Linked DNA regions of Homo sapiens. The protein of the gene in region 4 interacts with the protein of the main gene of each other region in a pairwise test. Each region holds a gene or a part of one and is shown on either strand. Other genes may lie near its edges.

The links.
Region 1: the proteins of PRR20A (region 4) and CCNK interact in a two-hybrid assay, tested with the Homo sapiens proteins (one large-scale study listed by BioGRID).
Region 2: the proteins of PRR20A (region 4) and TBX3 interact in a two-hybrid assay, tested with the Homo sapiens proteins (one large-scale study listed by BioGRID).
Region 3: the proteins of PRR20A (region 4) and NEDD9 interact in a two-hybrid assay, tested with the Homo sapiens proteins (one large-scale study listed by BioGRID).
Region 5: the proteins of PRR20A (region 4) and ZNF488 interact in a two-hybrid assay, tested with the Homo sapiens proteins (one large-scale study listed by BioGRID).
Region 6: the proteins of PRR20A (region 4) and ZNF385C interact in a two-hybrid assay, tested with the Homo sapiens proteins (one large-scale study listed by BioGRID).
Region 7: the proteins of PRR20A (region 4) and SOX5 interact in a two-hybrid assay, tested with the Homo sapiens proteins (one large-scale study listed by BioGRID).

Annotation. Positions count from the first base shown.
Region 1 is NC_000014.9:99,505,409-99,508,908, reverse strand, and holds part of CCNK (cyclin-K), read right to left. Parts: exon of another isoform or gene 1,834-3,500; coding exon 1,762-1,833; exon of another isoform or gene 1-1,761. UniProt on the Homo sapiens protein: Regulatory subunit of cyclin-dependent kinases that mediates activation of target kinases.
Region 2 is NC_000012.12:114,669,755-114,671,965, reverse strand, and holds the end of TBX3 (T-box transcription factor TBX3), read left to right. Parts: coding exon 1-125; 3' UTR 126-1,711; downstream 1,712-2,211.
Region 3 is NC_000006.12:11,185,234-11,187,668, reverse strand, and holds part of NEDD9 (enhancer of filamentation 1), read left to right. Parts: intron 1-1,997; coding exon 1,998-2,435. UniProt on the Homo sapiens protein: Scaffolding protein which plays a central coordinating role for tyrosine-kinase-based signaling related to cell adhesion. As a focal adhesion protein, plays a role in embryonic fibroblast migration.
Region 4 is NC_000013.11:57,139,427-57,143,717, forward strand, and holds the start of PRR20A (proline-rich protein 20A), read left to right. Parts: upstream 1-1,491; 5' UTR 1,492-1,705; intron 1,706-1,859; 5' UTR 1,860-1,878; coding exon 1,879-1,930; intron 1,931-2,951; coding exon 2,952-3,565; 3' UTR 3,566-4,291.
Region 5 is NC_000010.11:47,370,794-47,374,293, reverse strand, and holds part of ZNF488 (zinc finger protein 488), read left to right. Parts: intron 1-3,500. UniProt on the Homo sapiens protein: Transcriptional repressor. Plays a role in oligodendrocyte differentiation, together with OLIG2. Mediates Notch signaling-activated formation of oligodendrocyte precursors.
Region 6 is NC_000017.11:42,028,974-42,032,473, reverse strand, and holds part of ZNF385C (zinc finger protein 385C), read left to right. Parts: intron 1-689; coding exon 690-855; intron 856-3,397; coding exon of another isoform or gene 3,398-3,400; coding exon 3,401-3,500.
Region 7 is NC_000012.12:23,537,171-23,540,670, reverse strand, and holds part of SOX5 (transcription factor SOX-5), read left to right. Parts: intron 1-3,500.

The DNA.
Region 1 (3,500 bases), on a different chromosome or scaffold from region 4:
GAGGTGCAGAAAAGTGCTGACACCCTTCAATGCCTCCTGTGTGTCACTCCACAGCCACCTGGGCCCACAGGCCTGCTCCTCCACCTTGCAGAAATCAACTTTTCCAACACTCGACCCTGTAGCCTGAATCTTCAAGTCACCAGTGTGCCTGCCCTTGTGCTGTGTGACTGAGCTGGAACAGCAAGTGGGGGTCTCTCCTGGGCACCCCATTCCCTCTCTGTACACTTGCTCCTGACCAAGTCCCACACACTGCCACCAAACTGCTCCCTAAACATCACTGCTGACCTGAATGCCTCTTCCCATGGCCTAGGGCCTCCCAGGAAGCGTACTTCCCTCCCTTCCTCACGGCCCAGCTTTACTGCGCCTCCCAGGCCCTGCTCTCTTCAGCCATGGCCTCCTGGCAGTGTATCTGGCACCCAGGTCCCACTCAAGTCCCAGGCCTACTCCTGGCTATCTGTAATGGGGGAGGGAGCAGAGCTCTGAGGCCTCCACAGCAGCTACTCAGTGCCCTGGAGGTAGCAGCACCCCTGTGGCTGCCCCAGGCTCCCCAGATAAACCACCCATCTCCTCAGTGAAGGCACAGCCCCAGGCTCGGACCAGGGGAACTGCACTTGGCGAGGAGGTGCTCCATAAATGCTTCATGAGCAACCACAGGCATTTAAGTAAGGTTCATATTGAATTGGGGGTTTTGGGATTTGGCCCCAAAGTGGAAAATGACGCCTCTGTTCTCCCAAAGCACAAACACTATCATGATTGAGTAGGAACAGAAATGTAATCTGTGGCACATCTGTTACGGGCACACAGTGCTGTCAGCCCCAGTGTGAGCCACGTGCACCGACCAACAGTGAGTGTAGCAGGCTGGAGGAGCTGCTGACAGAGGCTTGGAAGCCTCCGGAGTATCGACCACCTTTTGGAGAGCAAGCACAGGTCACTCTGGCCTTCTCTAGCGCATCACCTTCTGAAATGGTGCCACAGGTAAAGAATGCCATCTACTTTACAGCTTTTCTCCTCTATTGCCAGCGGTATCAGAGAGGCTTTCCAGCTTACCATGTACTACTTGTTGAGAACTTTTCACTCTTTCATTTACTCTCTGTACAATTGCTTATTCTTCAGAATGCACTAAGACGACACACTGCCAATAGGAAGCAGGTGTAGGGGCGGCCGGAGCCTAGTAGCCACAGTAACCCTGCCTCTATCTCAGAAGGCGGGGTTTGGCTTTCTTTCCTAAAACTGATTCTAATACAATGTGTAGTTTAGCATTTCTGGATGTGAGAGGTCGGAAAATATTCAGATATACTTAACAATTTACAACATTCTCAAAATACCTGGTCAAAATCAGAACTTTGAGACACGGTCTCCCTCTCACCCAGGCTGGAGTACGGTGGTGCAATCATAGCTCACTGCAGCCTTGACTGCCCAGGGCTCAAATGATCTTCCCATCTCAGACTCCTAAGTAGTTGGGACTACAGGTGTGTGCTACCACACCTGGCTAATTTTTTAGACAGGGTCTCACTTTGTTGCCCAGGCTGACCTCGAACTCCTGGGGTCAGGTGATTCTCCTGCCTCCGCCTCCCAAAGTGCTGGGATCAAAAACACAAGCCATTGTGCCCAGCCCAAGAACAATTTTGCAAAGATTCCTGCCTGTGGCTGACATTGTCAATCTGGGCCCCAGTCTCCCTTTTCTAAGTTCCCAGGACCTGCTGCGTCCAACATTCAGAGGCGATGTGCACAGCTGGCCAAGCTGCTTCAGCAGATGCTTACCTGGAGGTGGGTGGGCTGGAGGCAACGGTGGATGAGTGGTCTCAATTTTGGGGATTTTAGGTGGTGGTGGTTCTACAAAGAAAAAGCAGATTAGAAAACCACTCATACTTCTTCACATGAATAAGCATGTCATAAAGAAAAATGTACTGGCAGAGATTTCTTTGGGAGAAAAACAACAGAGATGACCAAGGCTTTAAGGGAACTTGAAGAAGGTTTCAGCTAAACCATTATGCATGAATCCTGTTAACAAATTAAATGCCACCTCCCTCCAAAAGACCTGCGAGCTTCCCACAGGCAGCCCATTTTCCATGTCTACCTAAGTTTCCTTGCTGACCACTTCACTCAAGTCCTTCCGACCATGTGAGACCAGCAGAGCAACGTCTTCATGAGCATGTATGACCTATCTGGAGTCCTCCCTGGTACAGAGGACACAAAGAAGGGTCCAGAGTAGCAACATCATGTCACTGAGTCCCCTGAGGGTTCCACAAGAGAATCTCTATCTTTTCATTCTTAGACATAGTTTATTCTCTCTTTCCCAAATACTGACTTCCAGTTGGCAGCATGTCAGAAGCAGCACATTAACTGGAGTCAGCAGAGCTCTGGAGGTTGACACACTGATGGCAGGAAGAATGTGCCGCTCACAAAAGCCCAGCAGTCAGGACCCCTTGAGGTGGAGGAAACAGCCCACCCTTCCGGGGTCAGGCAGCGGCACGCAGCCAGAATCCACAATGACAGCACTAGGTCTCCAAGGCAGCCCAAGGGAAGTCCAATCTCATCCGTTTAAGAAGGCAGCGTGCACATCACAACTGAAAAAGAACCCTATTTTTCTGTTTGCATGCTGAGGCTTTTTCTTCCTGAAATGTACTTTCTTCTGGCTTGTACACCACTCAGATCTGAGTCTCCTCTGCCATCACTGGCCTCTTTCTCTGGATTTCCTCCATCTCAAATACAGGCTCAATTTAAGTTCCAGGGACTTCCTCTCTCTTCACCCTCTTCCTCAGAGTCCAAAGCCCCTCTCTAAGTGGACAACTACAAACCTACATTTCTAGCGTCCATCTTGCCACCAAAACCATGGCCCATCCCTAGACCCACCAATCAGCACCTCACACTCTACCTTTTGCCTCTGTATCCTATAACTGCTATTACTCTCACCTCAGGGACCCACCTCCTGCCTTTTTCCACAGCTGGTAATAGTTAGCTAAAGCCGTCTACATCAGGGCTGTCCAACAGCAATATAACTGAGAGCCACATATCTACAATTTTAAACTTTCCAGGAGCCATTTTATTTTTTGAGACAGGGTCTCGCTCTGTCACCCAGGCTGGAGTGTAGTAATGTAATCATGGCTCACTGCAGCTTCAACCAACCAGGCTCAAGTGATCTTGCTGCCTGAGTCTCCCAAGTAGCTGGGACCATAGGTGTGGCGCCACCACGCCGAGCTGATTTTTAAGTTTTGTGTAGTGATGGGGTCACCCTATGTGGCCCAGTCTGGCCTGGAACTCCTGGGCTCAAAGCATGCCTTGGCCTCCCAAAGTGCTGGGATTACAAGTGTGCCAGGAACCACTTTAACAAGAAAAAGGAGCACTCCAGCCTGCATTAACAGAGCAAGACTCTGGAAATAAAAGGAAAAAGGATAAAATTTATTTAACCCGATAGATCGAAAATTTTATTTCAACATGTAACCAATATAAAGCTTTACTAATGAGATGTCTTACGTTCTCCTTTCTTGGAAATCTCTGTG
Region 2 (2,211 bases), on a different chromosome or scaffold from region 4:
CCATGTCCTTGTCGCCCAAACTCTGCGCGGAGAAAGAGGCGGCCACCAGCGAACTGCAGAGCATCCAGCGGTTGGTTAGCGGCTTGGAAGCCAAGCCGGACAGGTCCCGCAGCGCGTCCCCGTAGACCCGTCCCAGACACGTCTTTTCATTCCAGTCCAGTTCAGGCTGCCGTGCACTTTGTCGGATATAAAATAAACCACGGGCCCGCCATGGCGTTAGCCCTTCCTTTTGCAGTTGCGTCTGGGAAGGGGCCCCGGACTCCCTCGAGAGAATGTGCTAGAGACAGCCCCTGTCTTCTTGGCGTGGTTTATATGTCCGGGATCTGGATCAGATTCTGGGGGCTCAGAAACGTCGGTTGCATTGAGCTACTGGGGGTAGGAGTTCCAACATTTATGTCCAGAGCAACTTCCAGCAAGGCTGGTCTGGGTCTCTGCCCACCAGGCGGGGAGGTGTTCAAAGACATCTCCCTCAGTGCGGATTTATATATATATTTTTCCTTCACTGTGTCAAGTGGAAACAAAAACAAAATCTTTCAAAAAAAAAATCGGGACAAGTGAACACATTAACATGATTCTGTTTGTGCAGATTAAAAACTTTATAGGGACTTGCATTATCGGTTCTCAATAAATTACTGAGCAGCTTTGTTTGGGGAGGGAAGTCCCTACCATCCTTGTTTAGTCTATATTAAGAAAATCTGTGTCTTTTTAATATTCTTGTGATGTTTTCAGAGCCGCTGTAGGTCTCTTCTTGCATGTCCACAGTAATGTATTTGTGGTTTTTATTTTGAACGCTTGCTTTTAGAGAGAAAACAATATAGCCCCCTACCCTTTTCCCAATCCTTTGCCCTCAAATCAGTGACCCAAGGGAGGGGGGGATTTAAAGGGAAGGAGTGGGCAAAACACATAAAATGAATTTATTATATCTAAGCTCTGTAGCAGGATTCATGTCGTTCTTTGACAGTTCTTTCTCTTTCCTGTATATGCAATAACAAGGTTTTAAAAAAATAATAAAGAAGTGAGACTATTAGACAAAGTATTTATGTAATTATTTGATAACTCTTGTAAATAGGTGGAATATGAATGCTTGGAAAATTAAACTTTAATTTATTGACATTGTACATAGCTCTGTGTAAATAGAATTGCAACTGTCAGGTTTTGTGTTCTTGTTTTCCTTTAGTTGGGTTTATTTCCAGGTCACAGAATTGCTGTTAACACTAGAAAACACACTTCCTGCACCAACACCAATACCCTTTCAAAAGAGTTGTCTGCAACATTTTTGTTTTCTTTTTTAATGTCCAAAAGTGGGGGAAAGTGCTATTTCCTATTTTCACCAAAATTGGGGAAGGAGTGCCACTTTCCAGCTCCACTTCAAATTCCTTAAAATATAACTGAGATTGCTGTGGGGAGGGAGGAGGGCAGAGGCTGCGGTTTGACTTTTTAATTTTTCTTTTGTTATTTGTATTTGCTAGTCTCTGATTTCCTCAAAACGAAGTGGAATTTACTACTGTTGTCAGTATCGGTGTTTTGAATTGGTGCCTGCCTATAGAGATATATTCACAGTTCAAAAGTCAGGTGCTGAGAGATGGTTTAAAGACAAATTCATGAAGGTATATTTTGTGTTATAGTTGTTGATGAGTTCTTTGGTTTTCTGTATTTTTCCCCCTCTCTTTAAAACATCACTGAAATTTCAATAAATTTTTATTGAAATGTCTTTGGGCCTTGTGTTAAATGTTTTTTCTTTGGGAACCTTTCCTGAAGATGGACAGTCAGGGGAGGGTTTAGTATCTTCTTGTTCTGAGTTTACCCCCTTCCCTTCGCCTTTAAATAATTAAGACCGCCCCCAGCGAACCAAAATGAGATGTCACTCAAGTTACAAAGCTAAAAACAAAAGTCCCTTACTTGAGCGAAGGGAGCCACTTCAATCTGAAATTACTTTTCCTTTAAATTAGGGAGCAAAGCAGGGAGACGGAAAGGGGCCTGATGAGAATACAGAAAGAAGGGTAATTTCAGATACTTTTAAGTTTTAATGGAAAAAGACTGATGTGCTCCCTAAGTCAGGTTTTCCCACCCGAATCCGACCAAAAGTAAGCTCGGCAAGTACGAATGTTTTTCGTTTTAAGCTCGCCCTCAGTTTTGACATCAATCTGGCGAATCCAAGTCGAAAATACCTTCTTGCACCAGTGTGTTTGGCTCGGGGAAAAGGCCAGCAGA
Region 3 (2,435 bases), on a different chromosome or scaffold from region 4:
TTTCATCTCGGCTTCCTCTTCCGATGGTTAGCTCCCTTCTCTTGTTCATCAGATTCCCAAGAAAGAGTCTGATTGGGCCACGTTGATTGGGCCATTTCTCTTTCTCTCTCTCTCTCTCTCTTTCTGTCTCTACCTCGCTATTTGTCTCTCTTTCGCCAGCAACACAAGCCTATGGTTTGCCTGGCCTTGGTCCAATCTAAAGGTAGGAGAGCAGAATTCAATGTTTTCAACATATATCCAGGCCTATCTACTGAGGACTTTGGGCAGGGCATGTTCATTCAAAAGCTGGGTATGAGTAGGGGAGATAATGACGACTATTGCTAGAACAAGGGCATACAAATAAAGAGAGATGGATTGAGGATTTATTTACAAGCCTTTTAAGATGAAATGAAGTGAAATGGCATGTAATGACATGAAATGGCATGCTATATTTAGGAAATCTGAGTTCTAATCCTTTCTGGCCAACCAACTATGTCAAGTCAGGTAACCTCCCCGAGCTTCAGTTACTTCCCTATAAAATGGGAAAGTACCCCCCCCATCTAATGACATGATATATTGATGAACATATTTGCATAAAGCCTAAGATATATAAAATATAATCCATTATGATTAAATACCTTGGAATATCACCTTGTACCTATTTATGTTTGCCTTGGCATCTGGCAAGGTAAGACTGCAGGGCTTTGGGGAACTTGTAGAAACCATAGCAATCGCTAAGAAGAAAACAGATTCTAGAAAAGTAAAGCTGTTGAAGGCTGGGCACGGTGGCTCACACCTGTAATCCCAGCACTTTGGGAGGCCGAGACGGGCGGATCATGAGGTCAGGAGATCGAGACCATCCTGGCTAACACAATGAAACCCCGTCTCACTAAAAATACAAAAAATTAGCCAGGCATGGTGGCGGGCGCCTGTAGTCCCAGCTACTTGGGAGGCTGAGGCAGGAGAATGGTGTGAACCTGGGAGGCGGAGCTTGCAGTGAGCCAAGATCGTGCCACTGCACTCCAGCCTGGGTGACAGAGCAAGACTCTGTCTCAAAAAAAAAGAAAAGTAAAGTAAAGCTGGCTGTGCATCTCTCAGAGAAGCTGGGGAAGCTGGGTGAGGTGATCACTGCTCCAGCTCATCCCTACGTCCAGGTGGGAGATTAACTGAGTCTGAAGCTCAGGTCACAGATAGTCCTTATCTGCAGAAGAGAGGTCTCTCTTGAGTCTTAGTGGAATCCCTAGAAATTATTATAATTGCAATTTAAATAATACACCATTTGGTAGCAATGAGGAAAGAAGGAAGAAAGCCAGCACCTGATGCATCTGACTCTGGGTAAAACCCCCTTCTTTTAACAGCTCTGGGGGACTAAATATTATGATGCACAATTCCCATTCAGACTGCCTTAGAAACTTTTTTTCCTTAAGTGCTCATATATTTATATGCATTAATCTTCCTGTAGTGCTGGATCATAACATGTCTATCAATCTTGACAGAAAGAGTAGGATAAACAGAAAGGGGTCATGAATGGTCATTTCATCTGAGCATCCTGAGATAGTCGAGGCTTTCTCCGAGAAGGAGCAAACTGTCAGTGACTTACTTGACAAGGAGGTCACTACATTTGGTTTTCCCTTGCCACCCCTCAACATTAATAAACATTTACATAGAGCCTACTACATACCAAACTATTATAAGCATTTTGTAAACGTTAACTCATTTAACCTCCATAAAGGTGTAGGTAACAGGGCTGCGGTTTAAACACTATGCTACCTTCTAGCCAGAGGGTACAAGAGACCAGTAGTCCAATCATAGAAGGTCTGAGCTTGAGGATCATCTTTCCCAACGTCTACATTTTACAATTTAGGAAAGCAAGGCAGCTTGACCCAGGCTTTACAGCTCACATGCATCTGACAGTTACTAGCGACTAAAATCCCTGTCTTTTAACTCCAAGGCCTAGTGAATTTCCATTGCAACACACTCCCTTGCTCTAATGAGATCTGCTTTCGTCTTCCTTGCAGCTGAGCCAGTTCCAGCTGTTGGAACAAGAGATTACAAAGCCCGTGGAGAATGACATCTCGAAGTGGAAGCCCTCTCAGAGCCTACCCACCACAAACAGTGGCGTGAGTGCTCAGGATCGGCAGTTGCTGTGCTTCTACTATGACCAATGTGAGACCCATTTCATTTCCCTTCTCAACGCCATTGACGCACTCTTCAGTTGTGTCAGCTCAGCCCAGCCCCCGCGAATCTTCGTGGCACACAGCAAGTTTGTCATCCTCAGTGCACACAAACTGGTGTTCATTGGAGACACGCTGACACGGCAGGTGACTGCCCAGGACATTCGCAACAAAGTCATGAACTCCAGCAACCAGCTCTGCGAGCAGCTCAAGACCATAGTCATGGCAACCAAGATGGCCGCCCTCCATTACCCCAGCACCACGGCCCTGCAGGAAATGGTG
Region 4 (4,291 bases):
AAAATCCTCCACACAGGAGAACTCCACAGAACTTAGGTAGCTATTCCCCTGCAAGGAGATAAAGCAAAACTTCCCTTTTCTTTACGTATAGGCTACAGGTAGCGACTTCCAGAAAGCACAGTAGAGAAAGAGGTGGGAAAATCACTTTATGGTGGAGAAACCTAATCAACACTGCCCCAGCCCGGTGACCAGGACTAATAGCAGCAGTGATAAGCCGGCTTGATGGTGTGTACTCTAGACAGGATGGGATGGGAATGGCGCTTTCCCGCTGCAATCTTCCTGACAAAAACATATAATTCCAGTCAGATCACAAGGAATACATCACACGAACTTCAGGAGAGGACATCCCACAATATATCTGATCAGTATTCAAAGTGTCAGAGTCATCAAAAACAAGGCAAGTGTGAGAAACCGTCGCAGCCAAGGGGAACCGTGACGAGTTGTAAGGTGGTACCCTGGATGGGGTCTTGGGACAGAAAAGGTATGTGAGGTGAAAGCATAGCAAAACCTCACTTCAACAGGAAATACAACCCAAAAAAGTAATTGGCCCGGCATGGTGGCTTGCGCCTGGGGTCCCAGCGACTCGGGAGGTTGAGCGGGACGGACGGCTTGAGCTCAGGCCTTCCAAACAAGCCTGGGCACATAGCGAAAACTCGTCTCTCCAAAAAAATCCGAAAATTATCCCGATGTGGTGGCGCTCACCTGTAGTCCAGCTACTCCGGAGGCCGAGACAGGAGAATCACTTGAACTGATTCTCCTATCTCAGCCACCCCCCCCCAACCCCCCCAAGTAGCCGCAGCGAGCCGAGATGGCACCGCTGCACTCCAGCCTGGGCTACAGAGCGAGAACCAGTCTCTGTAAAAAACACAAGGATGCAAACCAACCAAATAACCCACTGTGGGATCCCCTCCAGCGTCCTGCTGTGTTTCCCGCTGTCTTCCTCCACCCGTGAGTGCACCCACAGCAATAAAAGCCAGCGGTGTGGGTCTCACACGCATCTCCAGCCCCGTCTCACACGCACCACCTCCGGGCCTGGACTTGGCCTCCCGTCCATTCCCAGAATGTGCCGGGCTCCCTTCCAGTCCGGGCCTCAGCACACTCTCTTCACTCCCCTTCCTCCCTCCCTGCCTCTCCCAACCCGGTTCAGGATGACTAATTTCAAACGTTATGTTCCAGATTTCAGCCCAGATATCCCCGCTTTGGATGCTTTCCTTGACCATGCTCAGATCTAAGCTAATCGCATCTTCCTGTCAGCCGCTTTCAGGGCACCACACCTCATTGTGCTGACACTCAGAGGTCATTATGCAATTTTTTTTCCTCGATGATTAGATTAATCAATCAACCACGGACGTCTAGAAATGGCGGCATCTCAGAAGGGCCCCCATTTGACTGGCAGGGGACTGGCCCAATGCGCCTCGCAAGCCCAGCCAGGCCCGCCCCAGCCGGCCCCCCTCTGACGACGCCTGTCCCTTACGCGACTGCCTTGCTGCCATATAAGAGGGACGGCGCTCGGCCTCCAGCAGTCGGCTTTCTGCTGGGCTCGGAGCCAGAACCTGCTGCGTGCTCCCTCCAGACTCCCTGGCTGCGGGTGGACTACCTCAGAGCTACAGCGGTGAACCTGTGGACACCTCCGACTCCTCGGGCCTCTCTTCGTCGAAGAGTCTCCTAATTTTCAGATCTCCGGAGCCAGCTGTGGGAAGATCAGGTGTGTGTCTGGGGGTCCCGGAGGCGTGGACGGATCTCGGGTGGGTGCAGTTGGGGACAGAATCCTCATTCCCCTAGAAAGGCCACGGCCATCCCCCTGCCTTGTCACCTCTGTCTTCCTAAATCCGTTCTTGCTCTCTTGTTTTTCTCCCCAGCCCCTCCCGCCGATTGCTCATGGAGGAACCAAGGCCTTCGAAGCGACTTCGCTCCATGGCCCCTAATCAAGGTACATCAAACGCCTGCCACTCCTCTCTTTTTAATTTCGTCTGTTCCCCAATTCTTCCCCAATGGTTGACACTCAAACTCAATCAAGCATTCTCTGTTTCACCTTCTCCTAGCCTGCCTCAACCTGGGCTGCTTGTTGGAAGTCAGCTCCCGGGTTCCACATCATCTGGGAAATTCCTTTCCCTCTTCCGAACCGTAATCCCATTTCCCAAATCTGAGATTTGCTGTTGTTGTCGCTGTTTCCTTCTGTTTAGTTTTGTATTACTGTTTCTCCGTAGCAGAGCGAGTCCTCACGCTACGTCTTGATCTATGATAAACCGGTACTTCCACCTTGTTCTTTCCCGGAGGAGTTGGAATTTTCCGGCTGTTGCCACGTTGTTCTCCAAAACTTTTCCCTTCATACGCTGAGTGTCCTAAATCTTTTAATCTTGTCTAGTTTGACAGATGCATAACAATAAAGCATCCACTGAAAGGAAATTCTTTAACATCTTGCTTGTCTGAAACATCTTCATTCTCCCCTCCCAGATTCTTCAGCGAAACTTCGGTTGGACAGGAAATTTTAGGTGGGAAATTCATTTCCCTTGAAATTTCGAAGACATTTTCTGTTATGTTCTAGACTGAACTGCTGCTTTTGAGATGTCTGACTTTTGAGACATGTGGAATCCTAGCCCTTTCCATGTGACTTTTCCTTTCTCTGTCTCCCGCTCTCTAGAATCTGTTAGAATCTTCTCTTTTTCCTCAGCACTCTGAAATTTTCTGGTGAAATGTCTCAGCCACAGCATACCTCTAATTCTCTTATATTTCATCCTTCTTTCCATCATTTTAGGTTTTTGCTTTGTTCTGTGGGAGACCTTCTCAACTTCATTCTCCAACTTCCGTGGAGAGTTTTGTTTCTTCTCTCACAATTTTAACTTCAGAAATCCCTCTTTTCTCTGAGTATTTATTTGTAAAAGTATCCTATAACTGCTTGACGGGTGAAGTTCCTTCTGTCTCTCTCTGCTCACGCTCCGCTTCTCTTTTAGCCTCAGGTGGGCCTCCTCCAGAGCCAGGCTGCTGTGTTGCGGACCCTGAAGGCTCCGTGGAAGCAGATGGGCCCGCACAGCCAGCCCAACCCGCAAAACCCATCGCTTACGTGAAACCCTTCAGACGGCAGCCCCCAGCTCGCCCAGAGTCACCCCCTCCTGCAGAGAGAGGCCGGCGCCGGGGAGGAAGCCGGCGGCCAGGGCGAGGCCGTGGCAGAAGGGCTGGGCCCCGCGGGGACGCTGGCCAGAGACAGGGGGCAGAAGGCTTGATGGCACCGGACGTGCACATCCAACTGGACCACCATGGAGAGCCAGGCCACCAGGGGGAACCGGAAATCACGGAGACCGCAGCCTTCTCCCTTTCTGAAACAGGTCCTCCGCCTGGAACTGTGCAGGAAGGCCCTGGCCCCGACGTGGCGCAACCTGAGCTGGGGTTTCAGGAGCCGCCCGCTGCTCCTGGGCCTCAGGCTGTTGACTGGCAACCCGTCTTGACCCTCTATCCCTGCATCGGGTTTAGGGCTCTGGGTGACTCAGCGGTTTTACAAGTCATTCAAACCCCCCAGGGCACCTACGTGCAAGGGGTCCCAGTGTTCCTCACCGACATTGCGTATTGACCACTATCTGCCACCCACGTTGTTCCCAGCCTCCCTTCCTTCCACCTGGACGTTCCCCCCAGCCCCACTTCTGCTCCACTCCTCCCCCGACTGGACCTGAAGCCTGAGCTTCCCCTGAACTTGGAGTACGCAACTTACAACATGCAAGCTGCCAAACACCCTTTCTGTACAAGGCGATTGGAATGGAACTGTCATGTACAGTGAAAGTACACGTCACGTTTTTCAGCCAAGAAGAAGCCAACCCAGACAACCTGGAAGAAGTGGGATGCAACAAGGATCACTAAGCATGGAAATTAGGAAACTGTATTCTTAAGTCCAGAGAAGTACGATTCTGGAAAAAGGATTGATGACCTAGAATTAAAATTCCAGAAGACACTCATATAGACATGTGGGACATGCGAAAACTCAGAAGGAGCTAGAAGTTACTAAAGTGCTTCTCTAGTGCCTGGAGACGATAGACTGGCTGAATATAAGAGCAATAAAAATCTAGACTGACACATTTTTAAGTCTCAACGTGGGTACCCTTTGGGAACCACTAAATGAATTGGAATAGAAGGTAAAATTTCAAACAGATTGAGGAAAAAGGGGATCAAAGGACATGTGACGAATCAGACAAAAGGTGTTGGGGTGGGGGGGGGGGCGGTTAACGGAAGCAAGGAGAGTGCATGACTCACTGGAACCGCTAAACCAGGAATCAGTAATTTGACGGCAGTGTCCTTGGCTTCC
Region 5 (3,500 bases), on a different chromosome or scaffold from region 4:
ATTTTTTGCCCTTTAGCTTGTCAAAATAATGTCTAAAAAACCAGATTGATCACAAAAGATGCATCATAATGCCACATAAAGATGTCACTCGGCGCCTTATAGTATTTAGGACCATAGAGGACACCTGGTGCAGCCTCCTCATTTTGCAGCTGAGCAAGATCTTTGAAGGACAAGGACCTGCCCAAGGCCATCTAGAAACACTGAAGTTGAGACTCATACCCGAGCATCTTAGCTTTTGCCCACCCCACGCTGTTTCTCAGTCTTAACCAGCAAGCTTTCCTTGTTATTTTGGTTTGTCTTACGTCTAGGTTTGATTTGGCAGCACATTTCAACATCTGGTGAAGGCATGGGAATAAAACAGTGTAGGTGGATGGAGCACCTAAGAGCAGAATGTTTGGTGTTCTCTCAGGGTACACTGGGCAAGGCCTGCTGGGCCGTCCTTCCTCGCCATGCTGCCTGCGTTTATTCAGTTAAGAAAGTGGCACATTTTGTATCTTTGAGAATGCAACTATTTTAGTTAGGAGAGTGATGTTCCGTCTATGGAAGACTTTGCCTCTCTCCATCTTGGGCTTGGAGAAGGTGTCCCATGTCCCAGCAGCATGGCTGTGTACAGTCATTGATTCTTTTGTTTACTTCTCCATGCCGTACATTTTGTTCCTGTCCCTTGATCACAAAGAAATAAATGAACGTTCCTGAGGCACTGACATGGGCCGGGTGAGGTGGGAGCCTCCTTCTAGATATTATTATCCTATTTAAATGCATTATGTTCCCACTCATTTCACGATTGCCCAGTATTCAGAGAAGTTGCATTACACAACTGAAGCTCCATAATAAATGCGTGGAGGTGAGATTCAAACCCACGTCTTTCCCATTCTACTTTTTGTGCCTTTCTGTTTTAATTTGCTTCTTGGTATTCCTGTGTATTATTAATAGTCTGAAGCTTGGAAATAGATGCAATAGTCATTAGAGTGAAGAAAATACAGTGCCGTGCTCTCTGAAGGATAACAAGGACATTTTTGTTGTAATTACTATTTTGATTTTTCTTTTAAGAATGTTGCCGAGGAAGGAAAACAGAGGGAAAAACCAGCAAAGCTCACTGTGTCTAACTTTTGCCACATGCATGGACCTAATTTCTTACTTGCCAAGCACTAGAGCCTTTATTTTTGAGACTCTGTGAGGGTGGCTGAGTTCTGTGTGTTTGCTGGGGTTGGAAAAATCTAGTGTGATGGGGGTCAGTGGCCCCATGACACGCCAAGGCAGAGTAAGCCACAGAGCTCAGTCTGCCATAGGTGTGGCTTCCTTCCTTCCTCACATCTGTGTCAACACCCGGCAGGAGGTGCCTGATTCCAGTGGGGATGAAGCAGCCTCTGCCCATCCCTCCATCACCCATCAAGAGCTCTGGACACACATGAGGTTGAACCCCCAGATGGTGGCTGCCAGGGGAGTGTGTCCACCTCTCACTTAGGCCAGGTGCGTGGCATCTCACTGCGGCAGGCATCCCATGGGCGAGGTCGGTGCTCTCCTGATGTCTTTGATATTTTTCTTTATCTGGCCTAGTCTGAGACCAGTACTTTCCCCTGCCTGTGACCCCTGACTTCATTTGCAAAGTTTTCTCATGCACTTTCTGAAATTTTCATGACAGAGAGCCCTGGAGGAATTTGGGGCAACGATGGAGGTGGAAGAAGGTTTAAAGCTGGGAATCTTTATGCATTTTCTCTGTTTTCTCCTTCTCTTTATTTTTTTTCTTGACCTATACTTCACACTGGTCTCTGTCTTCTCCATGCTTAGAAAGCAGAGGAGGCTTGAGCTTCCAGCAAAGACCTTGCGACATGTTACTGGATACAGGCTGGTGCATAGAAGGGGTGGGTGGGGAGGGCTGACAGGAGGGTGTCCCTCCCCTGAGCATCACCGGCTCTGTTCTTGGCCAGTTGCTCTTTGTCCCCACATTTCAGGTTCTCTTCCTGCATTCAAGCATGGGCAGGGCCAGGGCTGCTGTTTCAGGACTGCATCTAGCCCTGAAGTTTTCTCTGGGCCTCCACAGGGGACCTTCCTACTCTGAACTCCACATGCATTCTCCAGGCCACACTGCACACTCACCCTACTCTCCAGTCATTTCCAACTACTTAGAATTCAGTCAGTGTTGAGAGTCACCAGTCTTATGTAGACTGGAGCCTGGCACATAGTAGGTGCTTTTTGCATGTTTACTGAGTGAATGAATGAACAGAAAATGAAATGCACTTTGCCTAAAAGCTGATCTGATCTGATCTGAGTGCCCAGGCATTTCACCCTTCTTCCAAAGCTCTCCTTTTGTTCCTGTGGCCCAGGGAATGCTCAGTTCCAGGCTTGGCAGAGGAGGGGTCTCTCTAGGCAGTGTGAAACAGACTGTGAAGCCCCCATGAGAAATAGTCCACCCACTGGGAAGGCCCCTCCGCTCCCAGGAAACTCCAGCCAGAGCACTCCAGCGTGGGGGCTAGGACTCCTCTTTTCCAAAGGAGAGTAGACAGTGGGAGGAATTCACCTCAGAATGATTTCCTGGAGCAGTTAGGAAAGTAGCATCTCTGAAGTCACAGAGGCTTCAGCTCCACTGGGCCGTGAGAATCCCTTACAGAATTCTGACCCCGACCAAGCAGAAAAGGGCACTGCCGCCTTTAAAACAGTTGACTGCAGAACAAAACAAAATGCTAAAATAAGACTAGAGTAGTTTGAAAATATTGGAAAGTTGAGAAAAAACTCCCCCAAATTCCATGATACTAGCATCATCATAGTATATAGCACATTACATATATAGTGTATTATATGGTATATTATGTATACATACTATGTATACTATATGTTATATGGTGTATGTACATAGTAAAAATTATTTTTCACATATCTATTGCTTTGGTATGTTTTCTTTCATGTTTTTGTTTATTTGGTAGATAGGCTTTTTTCCTGTTTTGTTTTACAACATGTTTATATCTGACACTAACATTGTATTATAAGCTTTTTTTTCCCATACTATTGCGTAGTCTTTATAGCCACACTTAAAAAATGAATCATTTATTTCTAAAAACAGTCAGGTCCATTTTATTTTGGCTTCTGGATCCTGCCCCTCCCCGGGCACTCTCCCACTGCAGAACTATGTTAGGCTCAGTTCCCCAGAGAGCCCTCAGGTTTTCCACACCACAGGCCCCATGCAAGCTTCTTGTGAACCCTGGGCAGTCCCTTCTGGGTCCTCAGAGCTCAGTTTAGATGCCACCATTGCCTGTTTGCAACACTGGCACATGTGCAGGTCCCTGTGTTCTGTACAGCTGAACTCAGGACTGCCTCATCACCACTGTCACTACCGCGCCTCGCACAGGGCCCGCATGCTGCATGCTCTCAGTGAATGCTTGCGGAATGAACGGAAGAGGGAATCAATGAACAAATGACCTGGTGGTCATTTTCTGTGTTTCCTCCTGGGGTTTTTCCTTTGGTGTATGCATTTTGTGTGTGTGTGTGCATAGAATAGGTTACAC
Region 6 (3,500 bases), on a different chromosome or scaffold from region 4:
TTCATGTTCCCATGTAATTCTGACAACCCCATGAGGTCAGTATTATCATCACAGGGTTTATGGGTGAGGAGACTCAGGCTCAGAGAGATGTTACTTGCCTAAAGATGTAGTTAGTGGCCAGGCGTGGTGGCTCACGCCTGTAATCCCAGCACTTTGGGAGGCTGAGGCGGGTGGATCACGAGGCAGGAGATCGAGACCATCCTGGCTAATATGGTGAAACCCCGTCTCTACTAAAAATACAAAAAATTAGCCGGGTGTGGTGGCGGGCGCCTGTAGTCCCAGCTACCCCGGAGGCTGAGGCAGAAGAATCGCTTGAACCCGGGAGGCGGAGGTTGCAGTGAGCTGAGATGGCGCCACTGCACTCCAGCCTGGGCGACAGAGCGAGACTCCATCTCAAAAAACAAAAAACAAAAACAACAACAACAACAACAAAAAGATGTGGTTAGTAAGTGGCTGGGTCAGATCTGAAGCCAGAGGCAGCCTGCCTTGGAGTTCATGTGCGAGAACACATTCTGCAAACCTCAGAGCCACATGTGCTATGGTGATGATGATGACAAGGACAAGGACTTGCCCTTTGTGTGACCTGAGCCCTGCCTCCCTTTGACCTGTCCCCCTGCTGGGCTCCAGTTCACAGATGGGGCATGTGGACTCAGCCAGTGAATGGTGACCTCTTGCCCTCCCCTCCCCAGAACCAGGCCGAGGCACATTATAAAGGCCACAAACACGCCAGAAAACTCAAGGCTGTCGAGGCTGCCAAGAGCAAGCAGAGGCCACACACCCAGGCCCAGGATGGGGCTGTAGTGTCCCCAATCCCAACGCTGGCCAGTGGAGCCCCTGGAGAGCCACAGAGTAAAGGTCAGTCCTGAGCTCTTCTCTTTCCCACGTCTCCACTCCAAATCTGGTTTCCGACAAGGGGTTGAGAGATTTCTGCTTATTCTTTTTGCTTGTGTTGGAGTATTCCATACAGACAGGCAAAGGCACACAAGTGTACCACGCCATGAATTTTCCTAAGCTGAACACACCCAGATCAGGAAACACGTTACCAGCACCTCAGAAGCTTGTCTTGCACCTCCTCCTGGTCATTACCTTGAAGTATTCATTTCCAAGGGCTGCCTTCACAAATGACTTCATTTGTGAAGTTAGGAATGGTGGCTCACATGTTGTGATGGTTAACACTTTGGGAGGCTGAGGCGGGAGGATTGCTTTAAGCCTGGAGTTTGAGACCAGTCTGGGAAACATGGTGTGACCCTGTCTCTACAAAAAATTTATTTGCCAGGCATGATGATGCACACCTGTAGTCCCAGCTACTCAGGAGGCTGAAGCAGGAGGATCTGCTTAAGCCCAGGAGGTCGAGGCTGCAGTGAGCTATGGGTGACAGAGCAAAACCTTGTCTCTAACCTCCCCTGCCCACCCCCACCCCCAAAAAAAGAGACTACAACCTGGGTGACTGAAAACAACAAAAATTTATTTTCACACAGCTCTGGAGGCCAGAAGTCTGAAATCAAGGCGTTGACAGCATTGGTTCCTTCTTGGGGGCTTAGAGGAGAAAGTGTCCCATGCTTCTCTTCTGGCCTTTGGTGGCTGCCAGTATTCCTTGGCACTCCTTGGCTTATAGACGCATCACTCCAATCTCCACCTCCATCTCCACATTCTCCCTTGTGTGTCCCTGTGTTTCCACAAGCTCTTTTTATAAGGGTACCAGTCACTAGATCAATCCCACCCGAACCCAGCATGACCTCATCTTAACTAATTTTATCTTCAAAGACCCTGTTTCCAAATAAGGTCACATTCTGAGGTTCCAGATAGATGTGAATTTTGGGGGAGACACTATTCAACTAACTACAACCCCTCTGATGGTAAATACGATCCTGACTTTTCTCAGCATAGATCAGCTTTACCTATTTTTGGTGAAACATAGAGTGTGCAGGGGTTTTTTTGTATCTGTTTTGTTTTGTGGGTTTTTTTTGTTTTGTTTGTTTGTTTTTTGAGACAGAGTCTCGCTCTGTCTCCCAGGCTGGAGCACAGCGGTGCAATCTTGGCTCACTGCAACCTCTGCTTCCTGGGTTCAAGCCATTCTCCTACCTCAGCCTTCCAAGTAGCTGGGACTACAGGTACCTGCCACCACGTCCAGCTAATTTTTGTATTTTTAGTAGAAACGGGGTTTCACCATATTGGCCAGGCTGGTCTCGAACTCCTGACCTTGTGATCCACCCACCTCGGCCTCCCAAAGTGCTGGGATTACAGGCGTGAGCCACCCTGCCTGGCCGGTATCTAGTTTTTATTCATCTCTCACAAACATTCATCAACATTCATTATATCTGTAAGATTCATCCATGTTTTTGCGTGTAGCTGTAGTTTGTTCTCTTTCATTGCTGTGTAGTACTCCACCGTGGATCATACCACTATTTTTTTTTAATTTAAATTCTTAAAAGCTCTTTTTTTTTTTGAGACAGGGTCTGGCTCTGTCACCCAGGCTGGAGTGCAGTGGTGTGACCTAGGCTCATCCACCTCCCTGGCTCTCAAGCGATTCTCCTGCCTCAGCCTCCCAAGTAGTTGGAACTATAGGCATGTGCCACCATGCCTGGCTAATTTTTGTATTTTTAGTACAGATGGTGTTTCGCTGTGTCACCCAGTCTGGTCTCGAAGTCCTGGACTCAAGTGATCTGCTAACCTTGGCCTCCCAAAGTGTTGGGATCACAGGCGTGAGCCACTGCGTCTGGCCCATACCACTGTGTTTTTTTTGTTTGTTTGTTTGTTTTTGAGATGGCGTTTCACTCTGTCGCCCAGGCTGGAGTGCAGTGGTGTGATCTCAGTTCACTGTAACCTCCACCTTGCAGGTTCAAGCGATTCTCCTGCCTCAGCCTCCCGAGTAGCTGGGATTATAGGCATGTGCCACCACGCCTAATTCTGTATTTTTAGTAGAGATAGGGTTTCACCATGTTGGCCAGGCCAGTCTCGAACTCCTGACCTTAGGTGATCCACCTGCCTCGGCCTCCCAAAGTGCTCGGATTACAGACATGAGCCACCGTATCCAGCCCGCACCATTGTTTTTTAAAAATCTGCTCTCCTGTTGGTGGACATGTGGGTAGTTTCAGTTTTATGATATTATGAATAGTGTTCTCTGAACATTCTAGTACATCTTTTTTGGTGATCTCTGTTTAAGTTAGCAAATAAGGATATGAGGGCTGTGAGGGCTTTCTGAGACCACTGTGTCCAACTTAATGATTTCAGATGGGGAAACTGAGGCCCAAGTCTGCCCAGTGAGTTGGTAGAAAAGTGGGGCCTGGAATTCAGTGCTGGTCATCCACCAGGGGCCCTCCAGGCCACCTCCATGGTCAGAGCTGAAGATCGTGGTCTGCAGCGTCATCTTGGGTCTCACACTCTTCCATCTCTGCAGCAGTTCCTGCAGCCCCTCCTCTTGGGCCTCCACTCCAGCCACCACCAACTCCAGACCCTACATGCAGGGAGCCAGCCCACTCAGAGCTCTTGGATGCTGCCTC
Region 7 (3,500 bases), on a different chromosome or scaffold from region 4:
GCTAGATCAGGGGAAGAGGGACATCTTTTTCTGATTAGATATACAGTAGTTTAGTTGGAGTAAAATGTGCAAATTCACTACAGACCCCACGGAGATGACAATGTTGCCCAGCGCAAACTCTTCACTTTCAGTGTATTGCCAGATTTAGAAAGGAAAGGAATAATCGTTGGACCTTATTTTTTCCCCTATTTTGAGCATCAAATACTTTTGATTGAAACTTCCTCTTTTGTCATCAGGAGGAAAACCCAATTGTCCTTCTCTGCTTTTTATTATTATTATTATTATTATTATTATTATTATTATTATTATACTTTAAGTTTTAGGGTACATGTCCACCATGTGCAGGTTAGTTACATATGTATACATGTGCCATGCTGGTGTGCTGTACCCATTAACTCGTCATTTAGCGTTAGGTATATCTCCTAATGCTATCCCTCCTTCTCTGCTTTTTTATTCTAAAACGACAACCTTTTGAAAGCAGCAGGGAATGAATAAACTCCCTGTACATCAGTCCAGAGTAAGCAGCCAGCCACCCCCAAATCAAGTAGATATTTTTTCTCTCTTTTTTTTTTTTTATTGTTGTTTATCCAAAATATTTTCCTGCCATTCTCATCAAGTATGTTTCAGGGGTTAGTTAACACCTCAGCTGCATACAATGGTTATAGTACCTGCAAAGCCATTGAAATCAAAACCAAACTTGTCAGTTGGTTAAGCTAATTCAAGGTTACTATTTTGAAAATGAAAACTGGATTTACCACCAAATGGAAACACTGCCCTGTACTGTCATAAAATATAGTAGTCAGTCAGCCATTTGACCCGGTTAGTACTTAGCCTATCTTTATTCTTAGTTTTGAAAAGACTTGGAATTATTATATGGCCATATTTTAAAGTGTAATTTAGGATTCAGTGATACTCTCAAAGAAATTATACTATCAAGAGTTAAACTATTTTATAATTCCCGTTCATGCCAGATTTGGAAGCCAACTTATCTGAGAATTTACACATCTTTTATTATCCCATTTCTTTACATACACGCATCTTTTTTTCCTCTTTTTTTTTTTTTTTAAGCCAGACCAGCTTTCTTTAAGTTAGTCTAACTCCTCTTTCCACCGAAAGACCTCAACTATTATATTCTTCCTCAATAGGATGCTCTTCTCTTTGTGAGCCCCACGGGAGTCATTTCTACAGCAAAGCCTTCCTGACCTGCAGAGGATTGATCTTGCCTCATCATATTCTCTTACCTTCCTGTACTTTCTACAACTATAAGGAAAATAATAAATTTTGTAATTAGATATTTAATGTATATTCCCTGACTGAATATAAGCTGCAAAGAGACAGGAACTATAACTTTCTGTATTCACTCACTACTATATATTTATTAAGGAATGAATGCAACATTATGTACATAGTAGGAAATATACAAACAAACAGCTCTCGCATTCCAAGGCAGATTACTTCTAAGCATAAACATTTTCTTTCCTTTGAGAGGCCAAAGCCTTTTGGCGTATAGATCATTTAAACTTAGGGAAGAATCTTTGGCAATTCCCCTTCTAATTGAAAATGCTTGGCCAGGAGTGGTGGCTCACACCTGTAATCCCGGCACTTTGGGAGGCCGAACCGGGCAGATCACGAGATCAGGAGATTGACACCATCCTGGCTAACACGGTGAAACCCCATCTCCACTAAAAATACAAAAAAAAAAGCTAGCCGGGCGTGGTGGCGGGCGCCTGTAGTCCCAGCTACTCGGGAGGCTGAGGCAGGAGAATGGCGTGAATCCGGGAGGTGGAGCTTGCAGTGAGCCGAGATCACACCACTGCATTCCAGCCTGGGCGAAAGAGCAAGACTCTGTCTCAAAAAAAAAAAAAAAAAAAGAAAATGCTGGTTTCGTTTTCGAATTTTGGGATAAAGCTAGCTAATAAATTTTATATTAGATCAACCATCCTTGATCCATTTATCAGTGTATTCCTATTTGTGAGTTATTTATGGTAAGCTCACTTTCCACTCCCTGATCTGAAGTTCAAAAAACTGGTATAAATGCTTGGAAGAAACTCAATGAAAACGGTTGTTCTAGTTCAATAGGATCATAACCATATCTGTGTTTATATAGGCCCTGAGAATAACATAATGGTATTCAAGTATCTTCAGAGAATAATGCTGGGCCAACAAGGAGTTTGAGATTGTCCCTACAAATGATATGGCTTGACCAACCAACCTAATGTTGGATGATGCTATTTAAACAGAAGTTTACGAAAGGAATAGAAAAAGAAACTCTATTATTTGCACTGTAACCTGAGTTTATACTGTAAATAGAATAAATTCACATTGGCTTTCTAGATTTGGAAAAATCTATATTTATACCTATGCAATACAATATCTCTTCCAATGGTAACATTTCTAAGGGAAGAGATATTGCCTCTTTCACTGTATGCTTTAATAAATGTAACAGCCCATATTGAGGAACTCTTTACATGTGTAAGGAAGAACTATTCAACAGTGAGCTATTTGCATTTAAGATAGGGAGTTACGGGTGAGTAATGAACTCATTCGAAAGATTCTAAGATCTTACTTAGATGACATTTGAAGGCAGGTATAAGGCCATTTGGTAGGGATATCCTAGTTCCAGTTTATCGGTCTTTGTGCATTCGCGTTGAGTTGAGATGACTATTTGCAGATAAACACACTTCATCTGCAAATAGATTTTTAAATCACTATTAAAAAAAAAAAAACGCTATTACTACTGAGGGCTGCCAGCACGCTGTCACCTCTCAATCCGAACATCAGAAGGAACAAACTCCGGACACACCGCCTTTGAGAACTGTAACACTCACCGCGAGGGTCCGCAGCTTCATTCTTGAAGTCAGTGAGATCAAGAACCCACCAATTCCGGACACATTACCACTTCTATTACACATAGCCATACTGACAGAATCCAAGTTTTAAACCATATCTAAAATGTGAATTAGCATAAACTATTTTTATTTAAGCTTCAAACTTGTCTTTTTTAATCCCAGCTAAATTCACACCAAAATTAATAGTGAAAAGAAAGGGGGAAAACAATTTGGGTTATTATTACTAAAGCAGACTGTATCATGGGAAGTGACGTCTTTGTATGTTATTGAAATTGATTTATTAAGAGAAAATCGTAATACGCATTTACAGTAATTGTGACCTCTGCTATATTTTGTATAGTAGGTGGCCATATGTAGGAAAGGGCATACATTATAGCACAATTTAAGTTATATCAAATCTGAGTTTGAGTCACAGATCTGTACTTCAGTAATTATGACCCTGGCTAAGTTAGTCCATCTATTTGAATCTCAATTTTCTCATCTATGAAAATAGATAGAAATGCTGTCTCTTTTATAAGATTGAGGTGAAAGGTAGGAAAAAGACATCAGTATGTCAAGGTTTCAGCACAGTGTCTGGCACATAGTAGTTACCCACTCCATGTTTATTAATATTATAATTTTAATTATAATTAAATGTTTAATCAAAGGAAT